Linked DNA regions of Homo sapiens: region 2 is linked to region 1. The links come from fine-mapping of genetic effects on gene expression. A gene starts in region 1. The other region holds a variant in brackets. All regions are shown on one strand. Distances are between the middles of the regions.

Region 1 (9,854 bases):
CTAGAAGCTCTGTGAAGGGAGGTACCAACTCTTGCTCTCTGTGTGGCCCCAGTGCCCAGCACATAGTAAGGCTCGCTAAATGTATGTATTCCAAATCTCCTTTCGTCCTAACTCTCTTCATGGACAATGACCTGGGCAGGGCAACAGGCTCAGAAATGGAATCCAAAGCATCGCTTTAGGTTACATCGTTTCTCTGTAGAGTCTAATTTTCTCTGGCTGCTGACTGAGGCTGCACACAGCCTGCAGACTTGGAGGCAGTGAAGACTACATCATAATAACCGTCTATTAAACTTCAAAGGAAAAAAATTAAAAACATGAATGGAACTAATTGCTGGATGCTACAAATTGGTTTCTGGGCATTATAAATGGTTTAATAGTTGGTCTAGATACCACTGCGATAGGTCGCTGCCATTTACAACTACAAACACAGAGAGATGCGAAGATAACCAATACAGGCTGTGGCCTCAACAGTCACAGCTCCACAGCTGCAAGGGAAGAACTGTACCTGTTTTGAGCATTTGATATATTTATCTGTCACAAAGTAGCCAAAAATGACTCCTGTCTAACAGTTACATAACCTAAAGACATGGCGCCCAGGTGAAACAAACAAAACTTCACAGACTACCCTGGCTAGGAGTCAGGATGCCTGGAGGTCAGATCAGGCTCTGAAGTAACCAGCCATGTGCTCACAGGCCAGTTGCCTATTTTGAGTACTCAATGAGGCCTGATAGAATACAGCTCTCCGTGGGGTCCACATCCATGAATTCAACCCACCTCAGATGGAAAATGTTGAAAAAGTTGCATCTGTACCGAACATGTACAGACTCTTTTTTCTTGCCATTTTTCCCTCAACAATAAGGTATAATGATTCATATAGCATTACACTGTATTGGGTATTATAAGTAACCTAGAGATGATGTAAAGTATATGGAGGAAGTGCATAGGTTATATGCAAATACTGTGCCATTTTATATCAGGGACTTGGGCATCTGTGGATTTTGGTATCCTGGGAAGGTGCTAAGATGAATCCTCTAGGGACACCAAAGAATGACTGTACTTGAGCTCATGCATTCACTTATTCATTTAATCAGTCTGGATTTATTAAATATCTACTACATTCCTGGCACAACACTACGTACGGGGGCTACCTTGAGATTCCAGTCCACCATGAGTCTCATGCCAAAGAACGCGATGTGGTGATGCTATTGAGGTATGCACGGGTGCCATCAGGGGAGGTACGGAAGGAGTAACTAAAACTCAGCAGAGAGAAAACACGTGAAGTCTCGAGAGGGAGAGATCTTTGAATTGGGCTTTAAATGATAAATACAAGTTTGTCAGGCAGGGAAGAAGGAAATGCCATTCAAAATGACAGGAACAGGGCATCAAAGATACATGAAAAAGAAATGTTCAGAGAACAGTGAGTGTTAGGTGAGTGTGGTTAGAGGAGAGGAACCTGTTAGGTTCAGTTAGGGAGGTCTGGGAGGTGTCTGGGCACTCTCTTGTAGGCAATAGTCAGTGGTACTCACACTTTAGTGTGTACCAGCATTACCAGGAAGGCTTGTTAAAACACAGATCGCTGGGCCCCTCTCCCATAGTTTCTGATTTAGCAGCACTGGGGCAGGGCCTGAGGATTGGCATCTCTATTAAGCTCCCAGGTGATGCTGCTTCTGCCAGTCCTGGGACCACACTCAGGGAGCCACTGCGCTAGGGAGTCCTCCCTTCTGATGCTCGTATGTCTGGGTCTGTTGAGGCAAGTAGTCCGCACCGCATAGAGCAGATTGGAAGGGGAGAGGCTGAAGGCAGAGTGGCATCCAGGAGGCTTGTAGAGGCTCCTAGAAACAAAACTCCTGCCAACTTTCGCAACTCAAGAGTCCCTGACTCATCTTAAACCCTAATGTTTGTTTATTTAGCCTGTTACTGGTACCTGAAATTTTTACTAACAGCTTTTCTCATTTGGATAATGAATTGCAAATACTTCTGGAAGGGGACGCAGATGAAACTGCAATCAGGGCTTTACTATAGAGTGGTAATTTAACTATGGGAGTCTTTTCATGCAGAGCTGCATGAGATGATGGTCATTTCTAATGTGCTGGGAGGGCAGATTCACTCCTGGCTGTACCGTACCCTGACGGCACACTGTTACCCAAGTCACTTCACCTCCCCGAGTCTCAGTCTCAGTCTACTCTTTGGTAAAATTGTGGATAATAACACCTGCCACAGTGAGAAAATGTGTGTAAGAGCTTTTGGAGTATACCAAGTGCTAAACAGAAATGCTAACATATATGCGCATACACACATATATTCTTACGGTACATCTTTTAGCATATTGAAAACTTCAGAAGACTCTTAATGAATCTAAGGTTTGTCAAGCCTGTTGGGTTGTTGCTTTGTGTGTGTATGAGAGAGACACACAGAGAGACACAGAGAGACAGAGTAAGACAGAGAGCAGGAGAGGTAAGAAAGGAGTGAGACAGAATATGTCAGAGTGAAAGGCGGAGGTTGATGTTAATTCCAATTTTAGCATTGGCCTTTTGGTCTATATTTACAATAACTTTTCACAAGATTCCTAAGTTAAAACAGGTCAGGATTTGGAAACTGTACAGTAGGGATTTCTCCTTGTTATCAAATAGAAAAAAAAAATCCTTCCTTGGGTCTTTAGGGACTTCCTAGGCTCTCTCTGGATATTTGCACTGTTTTCCACAAACCCCAAAACAGGCAGTATTGATCAGGCCCAGACTGAATGCACCTAATCCCTTTAAACAAATACATGTCTAGCCAGTTCTGGGAAACCTTTTCTTAACCTTGGTGTAATTCTCCACCTCCAGGATATTGACAGGCCAGGTTTAAAGGGCTCCTTTAACTAAATGTGATTGAAGTTTTCCTTTCATCGGGAAGGGGTGCACAGAGGATGTAACATGTTATTCTGGAGTACCTTGGCAGGCGCACCCTGGAACAGCAGGCTATCAGCTTACCCACAAGTGAACCATTCCCCAGGTGGCATGGTTAATCGCAGCAGCTTCACCATGGTAAAAGACAAACAATGTCCTTTCTGTCTTGTCCCAAGGAAAAAAAGACGACATCTACCAATTTGTAAGAGGATAATTTCCTAATTACCCCATGAAGTTTGTTTTTTTCTGGTGGGTCCTTAAATCAGGCTGAAAAGAGTGAAATCGGATCCTTCCTTTCGAGATGAAAAGCGTTATTGACAGCATTAGGTTTTCGCAGTGTCTCCCTCTACAACTGAAGGAAGAATCTGCTCATCTCCATCGCAGTAGTCTTGGAGGCAGCTGCAGCATGTGCAGGAGAAGGTCCCGAATGGAAAGGCTGGGGCTGGTGGACTTCAGCTTGATCACGACATCGTTGTTTAATTACTTGGAAAAGCTCCCTCCGGAGTGAGTGGAGGCCCCGACGGAATACATGACTCACAACATATTGACTCCTGAATGTTTTAGAAATGAAGCTTGCCTTAATTTTCGACAGCCATTAAATTCTCCTCAAGGCATTTTGTGAAAAAAGGAGGGGTGTTCTGGTGGTGGTTATCAAACCATAACCACCCTCAGCCACACCTGGGGCACTCCCAGACTGTTGGATGCTAGTCAGGAGACGAAACGAACGTTTCTGTAGCACCTATCATGTGCTCCAGAACTTTTCAGCCTCCTGCCTGACTTCTTGCAACAATCCTGCGAGGCAGGTGGAATAGCTGCTATTTCAAAGTGAGGAAACTGAAGCTCAAAGTCCCAATTCCCAAAGGGAGGAGCTGAAGAAGAGCGCCAGTCTCACCCCATCTTTCCGTGTCCTTCCAGAAGGAAGAGGCCACCCTGGTAGCTCTCTATTTCCAGAATTCTGCTTCTTTCGTCTTCCTCTCACTCTGACTGCTGGGGTGCTTACACACAGGGGCCAGCAGGAAACAGAGACAAAGGGGAGAAGGTGTAAACACGAGCAGGGAGGAAAACTTGGCACAAGCTGGATGTGAGAAGGATTGGCGTTGCCGGGGACGCCAGGGCTGGTACCAAGAACAGAGGAGACGGTGAAATGTGGCCTTGTCCTTTCTCCAGTTCCAGAAGGGCCGGTCTGCCTCCATTCCTAGAGTCCGTTGATTAACTCAACAGCTGTTTATTAAGCATCTAATGTGTCCCCAGTACTTCAATGGGCACTGGGAATACAGCAGCCATCAAACAAAGCTCCCTCCCCCCCGGAGCTTACATTCTAGGGGAGTTTCTATCTAGCGGCTTCAGGCAGTCCTCTGGAGGCTTAGAATGAGGGTGCTCCCTGTGGTTCCCCTGGACACGCACAAGCGCAGACACACATGCGCTCACATAAGTGTGCACTCACATGCACTTGCCCGCGCGCGCACACGCACTGCCCCGTCTTGCCGCCCTTTCTCTAGCCAAGCACCTGAAGCAGAGGCGCAGCGCGGATGACCCTGAACATGTGCGCGAGGAGCAGGCCAACCCCGAGGCAGCCACCAGCGTCTCAAGGCCCGCGCAGTCGGCGGGGCGCGGGGCGCAGCTGGGCGGTGTCCCTGGGAGGGAAGGAGGCTGCGCGGAGCCCCCGGAGCCCCAGCCCCGGGTAGTTACACCTGCCCGCGCTCGCTCTCGGGCACAGCGGGGCTCTTCCTCCAGGGGCTTGCGGTGGAGCAGGCGGTGTCAACCCCTCCAGGCTCCCGCTGGCCCACATCCGCCACCCGCCTTTGCCTCTTAGCCCCACAGACCCACACGGGCCTCTCCTCCCAGGCATGGCCACGCTGACTGATTCCTCCCTCCTCTACTGATTTCTGGGGCCCAGCCTGGAGGGAGAAAAGTGGGAAGGTGTCCACCTGCGCCAGCCTTGGTGTTTGGGTGAGACACAGGTGGAAAACAATTACAGGGCTCTTTGGAAACAGCCTCGGCCCTGGAACTGTGGCAGAAACTTGGACTCGGTGGCCTGAAACCAGGCTGAGGAGCACAGTCAGGCAGTGCGGACCTGTCCCTCGGGGCTGATTAATTAGACACTCCTTCCTTCCGAAGCCTTTTGGTTGGCTGTTTGTTTGTTTCCAAGGCTAGCAACCGCCTACCACCACTTCTCACACATGCTTTCCCTAAGGCGAGGCTGCGCGCAGGATGGCGTGCACTTTCCTCCTCCCTCTCAACTTCTCCCATGCTCTCTCAATCTCTGGTAGACAACTCCCTACCAGGCCACCTTTCTTTCTCTGGGCCAGTTAGCACCTTCGAGAAGTTCTCCTGTGGCCATGCCCACCTGCCTGTCCTCTCCAGGAGAAAGAGAGAGTGGCAGGGCAGGAGGAGGGTCCCCACCTCCATAGGACAGCTGGCTTAGCTCTGCAGAGCCCCTGTGGCTGGGAGGGTGTGTGTTAGGGCCCCATGGGGTCAGGGTACAGGCAGGCTTTCCAGGCAGGTGGGCCTGCCTCAGTCCCATCCTGCACCCCCTGTGGATCAACGTCAACAGCAAGAGACTCACACAGGGTCTGCTTCTCTCTCCTTGTCAGGTACAAGAGAACTCTGCATTTGTCTTCTGCCCACAACTTCGTTGAAGAAGTGGAGAGGCCAAGCAACTCCAAGGCTGTTTGGAAGGAGAGCTGGGCTCTGCCTCCTGGGAGAGTTGGAGGACATTTCTTCTCTGTGGAGTGTGAAGGGAGGACTGCCCTATTCCTTGTCTGCTAGTGCTTGCCCCTGGGAGCCAGTGCATCTTATCCCTTTTAATTCTCGCTGGCTCCCAGGGGCACGTATTACCATCCCATTTTACGGGTGAGGAGACTGAGTTTCAGAGAGTTGTTCCTGTATAGCTGTAAATATGGGAGGCCGAATAGGATGGGTTACATCACCTGCAACTAGTTTTATGGCCAACAGGAATTCATTTTCCTGGTTCTTGCAAAGCGGTGGATAAGGCTGGGAATTAGGATGCCCTCCTTCTACTCTAGTCATGCCAGTTTGGCCTCTGCTCTATAAACAGCCCTTGTTCTTTTCTGTCTCCTAGATTCTCTCACATAGCTTCCCCAACTTGGAATGCCACTCTCCCTCCCACCAGTTCAACTCCTGCATACCTGAAAGGCCCAGCTAACCTCTTCCCACAGGAACCTTCCCTGCCCACTCTAGCTCTTGGCCATCTCTCCCTACTCTAACTCTAACAATTGCATTCTGTGCCATAAAATCAAACTCTTCATGACAGTACTGCCTTTTATGATTTGCTCATTGTTTCCATTTCATTCGTCTCATTCCATCAGCCAGACTGATCCGTGTAAGGGCAGGGACCGAGCACGGACACTTCCCCTAGATGCCCCACTGTTTCCAGCTGAGTGCTGCCATAAAGTTGCACTCGGTGACTCCTATTTGGCTAACATTCTAAACATGAGCCAAGGGTCTTTGCTACAAGACAGTGAGGGGTGGTACTATTGGGCTTTCAACCATTAATGAGCTAGCAGCAACTTCCCCTCACTTGGTGGCCAGCCTGCCTGGTTCCTCCAGACTGTCAAGAAGGATTGCACCTGAGTTAGCTGAGAAAGAGAGACAGAGCTTAATTGTATGCTCCGTTCACACTAAGGCACCCAAGGACTACTTAGACCAGAAGCGTGGGCAGGTGTAACCACGTGGGGCTGGGGCTCCGGGGGCTCTGTGCAGCCTCCTTCCCTCCCAGGTATGTGACGATTGAGGATAAGTAAGTGAAATGCAAACAGTTATATACATAACAAACAATCTGGTCTAAAGTTGAAAACCACAAGGTGAATTATTGGAGTATTTCTTTCTGGGGCCCAGCCTGGAAGGAGAAGAGACGGAAGGTGTCCACCTGCGCCAGCCGTGGTGTTTGGGTGAGGCACAGGTTGAAAGCAATTACAGGGCTCTTGGGAAACAGCCTCGGCCCTGGAACTGTGGCAAGAACTTGGACTCGGTGGCCTGGTTTCAAATTATTGGAGTACTCTTTTTGGAATATTTCTGTGCTTTCTGTTGAAAGTTTGAGGCTGTTCAATGACATTATCTAAGGCCAAGCCCTTTTTCCTGTTACCTTCTCAGCATACATGAGTGGTCATTTCTTACCTCTATAGCTTATAATGTGTTTTCACATCTGTCATCCCATTTACTTCTTGCAAGACTTTGGAAGGGAATAACAGTAACAATAACAATGTTAATAAAAATGTTGATATTTATTAAATACTTACATGTTCTAGGCATCAAGGGCACTAAGGGCTTTATGTGTATTAATTGGTTTGTTCCTCACCGTTTCACAGATGCAGAAACTGAGGCACTGAGAAGAATGATTTCAGACCATACAGTCTTCCAAGTGGCAAAGCCTGGGCTTGAACCAGGTCTCCTGACCTACAACTTGGCAGAGAGAGGGACAACCACCATGTCCCCTTGTCCGTGGCTGCATCCAGTGCCGATTTAACTCAGCACTTCCGGGAAGCCCCTTTCTCACCCTGGCCCCAGGCTCGTTCCTGGGGAAGATTCAGTGATTGGGTTGGTATCCTGAACTCAAGGGAGGGAGACAGGAGAACTGGGCTTAGCTTGGTCATTCCCTTAACCTCTCCAAGCCAAAATTTTGTTATCTGCAAATTAGGAATGATGGTTCTAAAATATCTGATAGGCCTGTTGGAAGCATCTCATGAGACAGCGTAAATATAAAGCACTTGTAATCAAATTCCCCTCCTCTTCCCTTTCCCTGCTGTTCCAGGGAGCGTTGCATGTATAGACACAGGGTTTATTGTTGAATTGACATATTTATTTGCTGGGCCACATTACTGAATATAATAAGGCAAGACCCACTGAAAGGAACTCTGACTTCTGGTATCCCCTGGGAAGGAGGCCTGTCTTCAGTATGGAAGTAAGATCTCAGAAAGTAGGTCGTGGGTGAGAGAGAGACATCTGGCTCCTTGGCCTCTTTCTCTCCAGCCTGGACCTTGTGGACTCTAGACAGGCTGGAGGATATCCTTTGCAGACAAGTGGGGCTGGGCAGAGAGCCTCTCTGTGTGGGCCACAGGGTGCGGCAGTCACCTTAAGGGTTACTTGCATGTTATTCCCCACTTGAGTTACATCTTGTTGAAAAGCTCCAGCCTGGTCTCAGCCGCGCCACTGAGGACAACAGGGTATTCAAGTCTGGGCTTTTGGGGTAAGTAAGAACAGCAGTGCATGCTGGTCAGCAGGGTGCGCTGCCAGTGGCGTGTGTTGGTGGGAATGTCCCCAAGGCAAAGGGGGACCAAGAGCAGAGGTAGGAGATACGGCCACCCAAGTGGAGATCCTCCCTGCCAGCACTCCTTTGGTCAACAAACTGCATTCCAGGTCTTACTGAAGGGGCTCTTGAGTGCTGAGAGCTCCACGAGAGGAAGAAGATGCCTGGGTGCTGAGTAAGGAAACTGACATGGAACACCTGCCTTCCACCAGGCAGGGCTGCTGGGAACACCGTGGGCATTTTCTCACTTCATTTTCACAATGACCCTACGAGGTAGGTGCTGTGACTTTCTCCCGTGTTTGGGGAAACTTGGCCTTGGAGAGGTTAGCTGGTGCACCCCAGGGGCCAGGCCGTGGGTGACCAGGCTGGGATCCAAAGCCAGGTCTGTGGGACTCACCTGCTGGTGCCATCTCCACACACCCTGCAGTGTGCCTGGGGTGGCTTGGCCTGCTGTGGCCCTTTGTTTCTCTTTGAGAGAAGGGAGGGAATGTTTATTTCACTAACTGGGATGGTGAGATCATTATCACCCTCAAAAAGCATGTATTAAATCCCTAATAGTTCATGGCACTGAGCACAGGACTGAATTATTTTGTACACAAAAATAATTAACAGAAGGACACAGATAGGGTCTCTGCCTTCTGGGAACACAGGATCCCCAGCACGTGAAGGTGAACTCAAGTGCCATGCCTGTAAAGCCGAGGCCGTGGTGCCATTCTCAGGAAGCCTGATGACCTGTGTGACTTTGGGCAGTTCCTCACTCTCTGCAAGCTTTCTCCAGGCTTGCCACATGGTGAGATAATATACGGAAAGCACTTAGCAAGTGCTCAACATATACTGTACATTCTCAATCATCAATAACTATTATTACAGCCATTGGGTAGATGGCTTGTACCCAAAATGGATTTAGGGATGAGGGAAAGGTTTATGGTTAAACACTTTTTTAGGGGGTGGGGGGGTAGAGTCTCATTCTGTTGCCCAGGCTGGAATACAGTGGAGAGAACATGGTTCACCTGCAGCCTCTACCTCCTGGGCTCAAGCAATCCTCCCACCTCAGCCTCCTGAGTAGCTGGGACCACAGGTGCATGCTACCATCCCTGAGTAATTTTTTAATTTTTCTGTAGAGTCAGGGCCTCACCATGTTGCCCAGGCTGGTCTCGAACTCCTGGGTTCAAGTGATCCTCCTGCTTTGGCTTCCCAAAGTGTTGGGATTACAGGTGTGAGAGACCGTGCCTGGCCAGAAAGAAGACCCTTGATTGCACAGTGGAGGCGCCCTTTCCCTACTCCACTGCTCTGTGGCTGTGGAAAGGCTACAGGGCTCTTGTTTTCCTTACAAGAAAATGTTCTCATTCTTCTGAGATAAGGAGGGCTCAGCCTTTATGGAGCAATCCTTCAAGTGTCTGTCTCTTAGTCACTGGTCTTTAGTTCTTTATTCTGGAGAGATGTGTGGCTTTCCTGAGGCAAAAGAGGTGAAGGAACTGTGCAGGCTAGAGCTATTAGTGACCTGCATACAGTAACATTGTGCACATGTACCCTAGAACTTAAAATATAATAAAAATAAAAAATAAAAAAAAGAACTCAATAAGTGCTGACTGACCGGCATACCAGGGTGGGGGGTGCCCAGTTTCCCCAGACCTACAAAGGAGCCTGCTGTCCTTTCAGTATTTGCCTGAGGGACAAAATGACAGAGCCGCGAACCCATC
Region 2 (9,854 bases), 78 kb before region 1:
AGGAGAGAAAGGAAGAAGCAGAGGAAGAGACGCACCATAAAATGTTGAAGGCAAGGATTCCGCTTTTACTCTTCAGTGAATCTTGTGACTAGGAGGGTATTTCTTACTTGATTCTTTTCCTAGAGAGTCAGTCTATGAGAGGAATCGTGCAGCGAGGTAGCGAGTGTAGTATATTTGCACACAGGCTCTGGAATGACTTAGAATCTGGCTTTGACCCATTTTAGTTGTGTGACCTTCTCAGTGCTTCAGTTATGTTGTCTAAACAATGAAGATGACCACTGTATTGACCCCACAGAGTTGTGTGAGGATTAAATTAGGTAACCCATGTTAGGTGCTCAGCAGAGAACCTGGCTCAAGGAAGTACCCAATCAAAACTCTATTAGTAAGGAGCGCCCTTGTGGGCAGTCAGGCGTCGTGGGGTTGGGACTGAGCTGCCCAATGCAGTTGTGCAAGCCCACGTCAGTTGCATTGGTCTTTGGACCTGTTTTTCTACCTGCAAAGTGACCATTAAGGATCTGTCCTAGCTCTGACATTGTAGAATGCTATCCTCAAACTACCTTAAGAGGCCAGAGGGAGGGATGCAAGTCAGGGAATTGGAATTCAGGCTGTTTCCAAGGTAGGCACAGGATGGTGCCTCTGAAGATGGTTGCAGAGCAAGAGGACCATGTAGCGGGGCAGCAATCAGTGCTCATATCGACCTCGTGCTCCCCAGTTTGCAATCGTTGTCTACATTCACCATCTTACGTAATCCCTACAACAACCTTATGAGGGAGACATTTTTTCAGATGAGATCCTGAGGCTGGAAGAGATTAAGTGATGCCACTCAGAAGTGGCAGAAGGAGCCGGGCGGGACTCAGACATGAGCCCCTGATGGTGCTTGTCCTCTGAACCTACCGGCTAGCTACATGGCTCTCCCAGGAGGGACAATTCCAAGTGCTGACTGGTGCAGACCCTTGCGTATTCTCATGAGCGTCTCCTGGGCTGCTCCTGCTGACAACCCCCTCTCCTCCCTTCTGTAAGACTTTTTGCAGCCACACAAGTTCTTGGAATATTTACTGAAGAGCAAACATGATTACCACCCTACATGGCTTAAATTTTAATATGAGAAAACAATAGTAGGCAAACTAGTCATCCACTGAACTTTGTCATTAGAATAATCTCTAAAGGGCACTGAATAGGGAGGGCAAGTCAGGCACTGGGGTGGGGATAACCAGGCTGGTTTAATCTAGGAAGCTTCCTGGAGGAGGTGGTATGATTGAGTTGTGATTTCAAAGAGGTAAAATGTCGTAGTTGAGGCTGCAGGAACCAAGACATCTGGAAATCTTCCCTCCCCCACCGCCCCTCCCCATTTTGCTTCCTGTGGATCTGATAGTCCTGCTTAGGCAAACTGAGGCACAAGTTCAGTGGCAAAAGCCAGAAAGAGATCCCAGGACATGTGATGTCCCTAGTCAGAGGCCTGGAGAGAGATGGTGCTGCTTCTCCACCCCATCATTAATCTTGTTCAACCTCTTTTGCAAAATAGGAGTCTCAGCAACTAGGGAGGAGGTGTTGTGAGAATGAGCATTTGCAAACTCCTCAAACGTGCTGGAAGAAAGAGGCAGTGCTTGTGTGAAGCTCCCTGGAGTTGTCTGCCACATGGCTGTGCACTCCCATTCATGTCCTGAACCTGGAGGCTGGGCATGACTGCCCAGTGTCACTGACATATGCCAAGGAACATCAGGAGGGGCGTGTTTCAGCAGGGTGGTGGACTAGGGCCAAATACCTCCATATTACAATGCAATAGATGATTGAAGACCAATTAATTTTTTACAACAGGAGAAATAGCTAAAAGATTAGCAAGCATTAATTATTTATTGAATTGCTGCCTGTGCAAAAAAAAAAACCCAAAAAAACGAAAAAACAAAAAGCAGGGTTGGGGGGTGGGGAAGTGCCCTGTATGGGGAAATTAATCTTTCCACTACTTTAATTTCAGCTCTTGGTTGCTATCTGCCTTTGCTTGTAGGTCACGCAGATCATCTCCTGGCAGTGGGTGAGATCATTTGGAAAGGAGGCATAACTTTGACAGTCTCTTTCAGGGTAGTCAACCAACTGGTGAGAAATCCAGAGGTTTCCATCTTTGTATCTTTCAATCTTTCTAGCCCCTGCACAGAAAAAGCAGGCTCTGGAGTTCAATCCCCTTCCCAGGTCTGCAGTTCTGACCTCCAAAAGAGGAAGATTTAGACAAACAACTGTGAGTCTCAGCTGAGCCTGGGCAGCCAGCAAGCCCTGGGCACGTGGACTCAAAGCAGCAGCAGGGAGGAACCTGGGGGTTCCTCTTTTGAGCAAGGATAAACCTGCTAGTCAGTCTGTCCTGGGATAAGTTGTGAAGAATTCATTTATTCATTCATGCACTCACTCATTCACTTGCTAAATCATGCATTCAGTATTTATTTTTTTTTTGAGATGGAGTTTCACTCTTGTCTTCCAGGCTGGAGTACAGTGGCACAATCTCGGCTCACTGCAACCTCCGCCTCCTGGGTTCAAGTGATTCTCCTGCCTCAGCCTCCCAAGTAGCTGGGATTACAAGCATGCACGACCATGCCTGGCTAATTTTTTTGTATTTTTGGTAGAGATGGGGTTTCTCCATGTTGGCCAGTCTGGTCTCGAACTCCTGGCTTCAAGTGATCTGCTCTCCTCAGCCTCCCAAAGTGCTGGGATTACAGGCGTAAGCCATTGCACCCGGCCTCATTCAGTATTTATCCAAGTGCCTCTATGTGCCATCTACAATATTGTTACAAATAAGACCACCCAGCTCAGGTCAGGGTTTCTAAAACATCCTCTTTCATGAGAAGAATAGCTGAGACATGTGTAGGCTGACCAGTGAGCTGGGTCTTTGTCCTTGGCTGGTCCGTGCTTGGGGAGTGAGGATTGCAGAAGAAGAGGCAGGAGAAGCTGATGCTTGGCTTCTGTTCCCCTTTACCTTATTTCTCCTTCACCCTCTTTTCTCCCCACCTCTCCTTTGCGCCCCAAGTTCTTTCTCCTAAATATCTCTGAAATCCGTCCTCCCACTCCAGCCCCCCGCCACATCCTGCTCAGGGCCTGCCTTGTCTCTTGCTTGGACCAAGGCAACAGCATCCCACAGAGCCTCCTGACTGAGGCTCTTCCCCTCCTCTCCTCTCTCTATAATGCCGTCAGAGAATCCTGTTGGAAAAAAACCCCTGGGGAGTCAAGCATTCTGCTTACAATCCTTTCGCCACCCCACAACTTATCCCTTGCTTGATATTCCAACCCCCTTGGGAACCTTTCTTCCATCCCTTCTGGCACCCCAGGCCAGCTCCTGCGCTGGCTCCAACGGTGTACGTGCCACCCTTAGGTCCCCACAGTAAGCTCTGCACATTTCCACTCTGGCTTCTTGTACCTCTTCACATGAGGTGCCCTGCCTGGGAGCCCTGTTCATCCCTGCCTGGAATTTTTACTTTCCTCTAAGACTGTTCCAAGTCACCTCCTCCAAGGAGCCTTCCCTGACCAGCTAAAACATAGTCATGGATATTTTGTCATGTGCCCTAATAAAGCTTCCTTAAACATGACTTTCACTCTACACATGAATTTCACTGTACTGTGATTATTACTTTGTGTCCCCCAATTTGACTTTGAACCCTGCATGGGCAGAGATAGAATTTTATTTATCTCTGTGTCCTCAGCCCCTAAATAGGGCCCAACATTCATTGATCCACTTTCTCCTTCATTCTTGTTGACTTGATTCTCTGCCTGGACTGTGTTAATCGCCAGGGGATACAAACAATGACAGGGTGCACCCACAGCCTCATGGACATGACAGAGGACCAAATGTGGGATTGGAGAGTGGTGTGACGAGAGCCAGGATCGCAGGGAGCCTGGGGAGCCCCGGGCCATTCTGGTGGGGCAGGAGGCTGAGCTCCTCCTGGGGCACCAGGCCCTCCATGCCACACACCTGCAGAGCTCTGGGCAGGCACTTGGCTGAAAGCATTATCCTTCCTTTCAGAGGGAAGTTTCAGCAGGGCAAGGCCTGTATTGCTGATCTCTGCTGTTTACAGAGATCTCAGTCTCTCCTGGGGCTGAGGGGCATTGGTGCAGTGGAGCTGCGACCTGAGCCGGGTCCTGGCTCTTAGGTAGAGTCCTGAGACTTTCATACGTCCTTTCCACACAGGGGGTCTCACGCACAGACCTTATCCTGGAGGGTCACGGCTTTTTTCACAGAGATGGACGTTGAGAGATAAGCGCCCCAGGAACTACACAATTACAGTTGGGAGAAATATGGTGAAGAAAAACACCGGGGCCAGGACATCTTGTGTGACAAGGAGGCCTCCCAGGAGAGTGAATCGATGTGACAATGTGTCCTTCAAGCCTGGGTCCAACTCCCATGTGGGGAGTGGCTGCCTTGGTTCCCAAGCCGATCATCCTGCAGGCAACCCCTCTGACCACAAGGGGGCCTGCTGGAGCCTGGCCTGGCCCAGCCCTTCCCGCCCAGAAACACCTCCCGGTCTGGTCCCTGCTGTTGGTGACTCAAGGAGCCAACACCTGTCTCCAGAGGTCAAGGCCACCTTGAGGGTATAGGGTGCCCGGGCACTCCACACACGGGGCGTGGAGGGAGTCTCCCGGCCGGGCCAGCCCCGGCTTCCTCTCAGTGGAACCTCTGCTGCGTGGGAGCCCTCGCGGGCTGGCTGGACCGACCCAGCCTCTGCCCCTGGCTTCCGCTTCTACCCCACTTCGCTTCTTTCCCCCAGGGTTGCCAGAGAGCTGCTGCCAGTTTTCCCAGCACATTGCTCACAGGAAATTAGGGTCTAAAGGTGCAAGGTGAGAGAGAAAAGCCATACATGGAATAACTGAAACTACTGGGGGCTGCATTTCCAGCTCCACTCGCCCTGTGCGAAAGCACTGAGACCCCACCTTCCTCGCAGGCTCCTGCGACCGCCCTCTCCAGTGCTGAGGGTGCAGTTCCACCACGGGCCATGAGGGGCTGCTTGCCCGGAGCTCCTGGAGGGGGCCCGCGGGCCTGGCTCAGCTGGAAGAGGACAGAACACAGCAGGTTCCATCCGAAGCTTTACCTGTTGGCAGAGTGGGTGGTGTGTGCTTTGAGAAACATGGAGCAGGCTCAACAGAACCAAAGTCTCTTCCTCTCCAAGATTCAATCATACCTAAAGCTCT[G/A]CTGCTGGAAACTCATCAGCCAGGCTGTGTCCTCTCTGCAAGGCACTCTTTACAAACCGCTATAGAGGCTGCCTTTCTTTGCTGCTTTGCAGCGTAGGAAGTGCTTCTGGTACACACCTGATGGTCTCCCCGTGACACTTCTGGAGGGTAGGCATTCATGAGATGATTTTCTTTTGGCTGATGAGGGACTCGAGGACTGGCACCCAATTCCAGGTTGCCCACTTCTCTGTTTGATGTCCACTCCGTTACGTGGTGGCCAGTACCACTCAGGCGCGTAGATGTGAATGAATCTGCCTGATGACTGGACTCCATGGCAGCAAAGCAGGGCAGCCCGGCAGTGTTAGGGAAGTGGTGAGTAATCCCTCAGGGGAAGGGAGAGCCAAGGCTCTGAAGATGGGATGCCCACAGAGGAAGGAACCCCAGGCACGAGGGCAGACTTCCCTGCGTGCCAGGCAGAGCCTGCATTCTTGGGGGTGTGTGTGTGTGAGTTTTCACTCCTGTTAGTTCTTGGAGTTGACAACCAGCAATCACGTTTTGAATGGCCTCCTGGCCACGGACAGTGAACTGTGGGGTGTGTGTTCAGCGCTCTGTGCTGTTGCTGTTGTGGGAACAACACCCAGAGCTCCATCGGGCCAGGATGTCCAGCTCTGTCTCTCTCAGCTACAGAGACCAGGAGCTGTTTTCTGCTCACTTGGCACCTCTCTGAACTGTGACGCCACCTCCTGGCCGGGACTGGCTCCCCCCTGGGCTGTAGGGTGTTTCTATGACCTCTTATGCAGGATTGGGAGTAGATGCTGCTCTCAGTTCCTGCCGTGGAGGTCAGCGTGACCAAGCTCCGGGCCAGGCACTGCAGCCTTGCTGTGGCAGCTCAGCATAGACGCACCTCCGCGTGGGCAGCTGTGCTGGGTGCTGTTAAATCTCCTGCATGATCTCTGCCCTGCCCTCCAGGAGTTTCCAATGTCAAGCGTCTTAGTTAGATTATTGTTCCTCCCTGGGCCTCTCTCCCTCTGACTACAGTTGCTATTTATTATCACAATAAGGTCGTGTGATTCTCTTTATTTGGGGTGGGGATAAGAATACTGAACCAGAGCGGGGTCATATACTTAAATGGAGCCCCATACCTGCCACTAATTGGCTATGTGTTCTTGGGCGAGTTATGTGGCCTCCCTGAGTCTCAGCTTTCTCATCTGTGAAATGGGGAAGATAACACTACTCCTAAAGATTGTTCTGAGGCTGTAGTGAGAAAATGCATGCGAAAGCATTTTGAGAGCCACAGAAAGCAGTGGGAGCGAGGGGAGATGCTACTATTCTTAGTGAGGAGGCAAGCAGAATGGCCCAGGGGACTGATCGGCTGTCCCCCCCTTTTCTCCACTGTCCCTTTCCAGCACCTCCTCCCAGGGCCCTTGACACATGCCCATTCTGTGTCCCAAGTGGGCCTGCTCTCCATGCTGTGAAGTTTTTTTTTTTTTTTTTTTTTTTTTTGGAGACGGAGTCTTGCTCTGTTGCCCAGGCTGGAGTGCAGTGGCGCAACCTCGGCTCACTGCAAGCTCCGCCTCCCGGGTTCACGCCATTCTCCTGCCTCAGCCTCTCGAGAAGCTGGGACTACAGGCGCCCCCCACCACACCCGGCTAATTTTTTTATATTTTTAGTGGAGACGGGATTTCACCGTGTTAGCCAGGATGGTCTCGATCTCCTGACCTCGTGATCCACCTGCCTTGGCCTCCGAAAGTGCTGGGATTACAGGCGTGAGCCACCGCGCCTGGCCTTACACTGTGAACTTTCTTTCTCTTCCCTTCCCCTTCCCCTTCCTCTTCCCCTTCCCCTTCCCCTTTCCTTCCCCTTCCCTTCCCTTTCCCCTCCCCCTTCCCTTCCCTCTTCCCCTTCCCTTCCCTCTTTCTTTCTCTTTCTTTCTTTCTCTCTTTCTTTCAGTGGAGTCTCGCTCTGTTGCCAGGCTGTGTAGTGCAGTGGCGTGATCTCGTCTCACTGCAACCTCCGCCTCCTGGGTTCAAGAGATTCTCCTGCCTCAGCCTCCTGAGTAGCTGGGGCTACAGGCATGCGCCCCCACGCCCAGCTAATTTTTGTTTTGTACTTTTAGTAGAGACGGGGTTTCACCATGTTGGCCAGGATGGTCTCGATCACCTGACCTTGTGATCTACCTGCCTCGGCCTCCCAAAGTGCTGGGATTACAGGCGTGAGCCACTGCACCTGGCCGTGACCTTTCTTTTATCCCTCTTCTCCCTTAAAACATACCCATTCTCTGCTTCAGTCCTTGTGCCTTGGATCATTCATTCTTGTAATAAGTGCTTATTGGGAGCCTGGTGTGTTAGAAAGAGCATGGAGTTGAATCTTTGGCCTTATCCCCTCTAGCCGTGTGACTCCAGGCAAGTCCCTTGCATTTTCTGCGCGTCAGTTTCCTAAAATTCAAAACGGGTACAACATCTTCACTGCAGGACTGCTGGGAGCATGGTGAGGGGTGATGTACGTAAAAACCAAGGCGCAGTGCTCAATAATTGTAGCTCTCTCCCCGAGGCTGCTTGCTGCCGATCAGAGAAACTTACCAGACTTGCTATATTGTCCGTGCAAAGACCAAAACAACAACAGCAACAACAACAATTTTAATTGGATCCTGGGATACATCACAAATCCTGGCCTGACAATAGTTGCTTGAATATGCAACTGAGCCACCAGTGCCATCTCCAGAAGGAGTGGGTGAGGAGGTACTGCCCATTCTGTGGCAGGGCCACTGGGCCTCACCAGCACATGACACCAGGATACCTTAATTCTCTAAAAAGGCATTACTCCCATTCCCACAATGCCAAGACTAAAGTCTTTCTAACCCCACATGCAGTGCCTCATCATTCACCTGAGGTCCCAGATGGGGACTGCAAGGCATGAGAGAGGGGCTTAGATTTCAGGCTTCCCTTTTTTGTGGGGGTACATTTAAAAAGCGGGTATATCATTTGGTGCATTTGATATTAAGCCTCTGGGGGCGATCTGGAAAGACAAGTAAACATATAGCACAAGTACCCTTTAAAGAAGCTCATCTCATCATTCATTCAGTGAATATTGGTTGAGTTAGAGCCCCCTCTTAATACGGAGGTTACAGCGTGAATGAAACAGATGGGGTCTCTGCCCTTTGTGTAGCTGACATTCTTGTGGTAGAGGCAGACCATCAGCAGGAGGCATAATAAATAAAGAGATAAAGGGCATGTTAGGAGGTGGGAGTCCTGAGAGAGAAGAAAAGTGGAGCTGGAGGGGAGATTGGCCTGCTGAGGAGGCGGGGCAGGCCGCAGCGGTAGTAATAGGATGGTCAGAGACTCCACCTTGGTGAGGTGACACTTGGCCAAGACTTGAAGCAGGTGAGGGGACTAGTGATGCTGATGTCAGGGCCAACACGTAGCATGGCTGGGGTGCTCAGGGACCAGCTGTGTGCCGGGGTGCAGAGAGTGAGGGGAGAAGGACAAGGGGAGATCAGATAGGTTCTGGGGGTGGGGAGGCAGATCACATGGGGCCTTGGAGGTCACCATAATTACTCTTCAGCTTTGGGTCTCAGGGGTGGGGAAGGGGAAAAACTAGTGGGTTTTGAGGGAACTGGGTCTCAGGAGAACTCATTCCAGTGCTGGCTCTGCTCAGCACTGGCCTTGACATTTGGTACAATCAGGTAGCCTCTCAGGGCCGCGCTTGCCTTGGAGGTCAGACCAGCTGGCTGGCTTGGCTAGTTCAAAGGCCCATTCTCAACTCTGGGTGTCACATGCAGTGCAAGGCACGCAAACTCATCCATTTCTCCATCTACCCCCAAAAGTCTCTGGCTCCCTGGAGAATTTTCATTTCCTTTGCTGTCAATTTTCCAGTTCGCCCCAGAGGCAAACCCAGGTCTCCAGGTACATCTGGAAGTGGCTGTGGGGGAGATGGTGGAATTCCCTGCCCCCCCACAGGGAGCTGAGCACACTCTTCCCAAGGCAGTTTTTCCCTGGCTGGGATCAGCAGTGGAGCAGTTTCCCGTGGCGAGGCGAGCCCTGGCCTCTACCCTGCTGGGCTGGTGGGACTGGGATAAGGAGAGGGCAGCAAGTGACAGGTGCCTCTGGAAGGAGAGCTGGATGTGGCAGGCATGTCCTTTGCTGGGCAGCAGGCAGGATTCGGGTGCAGTGTCAGTGGCAGCCCTGAGCAGGAGGCTGGGGGAGGGCCTGCCTGTTACCAGAACTGCACCCGTTTTACCCCGGGGTCATGGGAGACAAGCTTGCAGCCGGTGGCCCAGCCGTTCCCATGCCTGATGCTGCAGCAGCTGCCAAACGCTCTCTCAATGCAGCCTTGTCAGAAAGGAGGATCTAGTGCACTGCACGGAGACCACAGTGGATAACAATGTACTGTATATTTGAAAATTGCTAGAAGAATAGATCTTTAAGGTCCTCACCACAAACAAACGATAAGTTGATGAGGTGATGAATATATTAATTAGCTTGATGGGATCTTTCTACAATATCATAAATCAAAACATCACATTGTACCCCATATATACACAATTATTAATTGTCATTGAAAAATAATTTAAAAAATGAAAAAAGGAGACAGGAGGACTTCCTTTTTCTTGGCAGGGGTAGAGGAGTATGAAAGGGAAAATGGGGGGCGCTCCCCATTTCCCACCCGGCCCCCTGCCCAGTTCTGCCTCGTAGCTCTGGCGGGCCATCCATGCC

Direction of the effects. Positions count from the first base shown, and alleles are read on the strand shown. Sizes are in standard deviations (SD) of each study's normalised expression.
With allele A in place of G in region 2, the expression in sun-exposed skin of the gene that starts at base 5,483 in region 1 is higher (small effect, 0.34 SD a copy in GTEx).

What was found. PIP is the estimated chance that this variant, and not a neighbour inherited with it, causes the effect.
Region 2: its variant is fine-mapped to the expression of LINC01395 in sun-exposed skin (GTEx, PIP above 0.99).

The regions. Positions count from the first base shown.
Region 1 is chr11:129,612,898-129,622,751 of GRCh38, reverse strand. LINC01395 (long intergenic non-protein coding RNA 1395) reads left to right here and starts at 5,483. Exons shown (of 4, transcript NR_120582.1): 1 at 5,483-5,741; 2 at 7,217-7,445; 3 at 8,265-8,427.
Region 2 is chr11:129,690,831-129,700,684 of GRCh38, reverse strand. No RefSeq gene overlaps it. Among named protein-coding and RNA genes, the nearest start is that of LINC01395, 78 kb to the right of the region's middle. The variant G/A (reference allele first, on the strand shown) is at 5,164.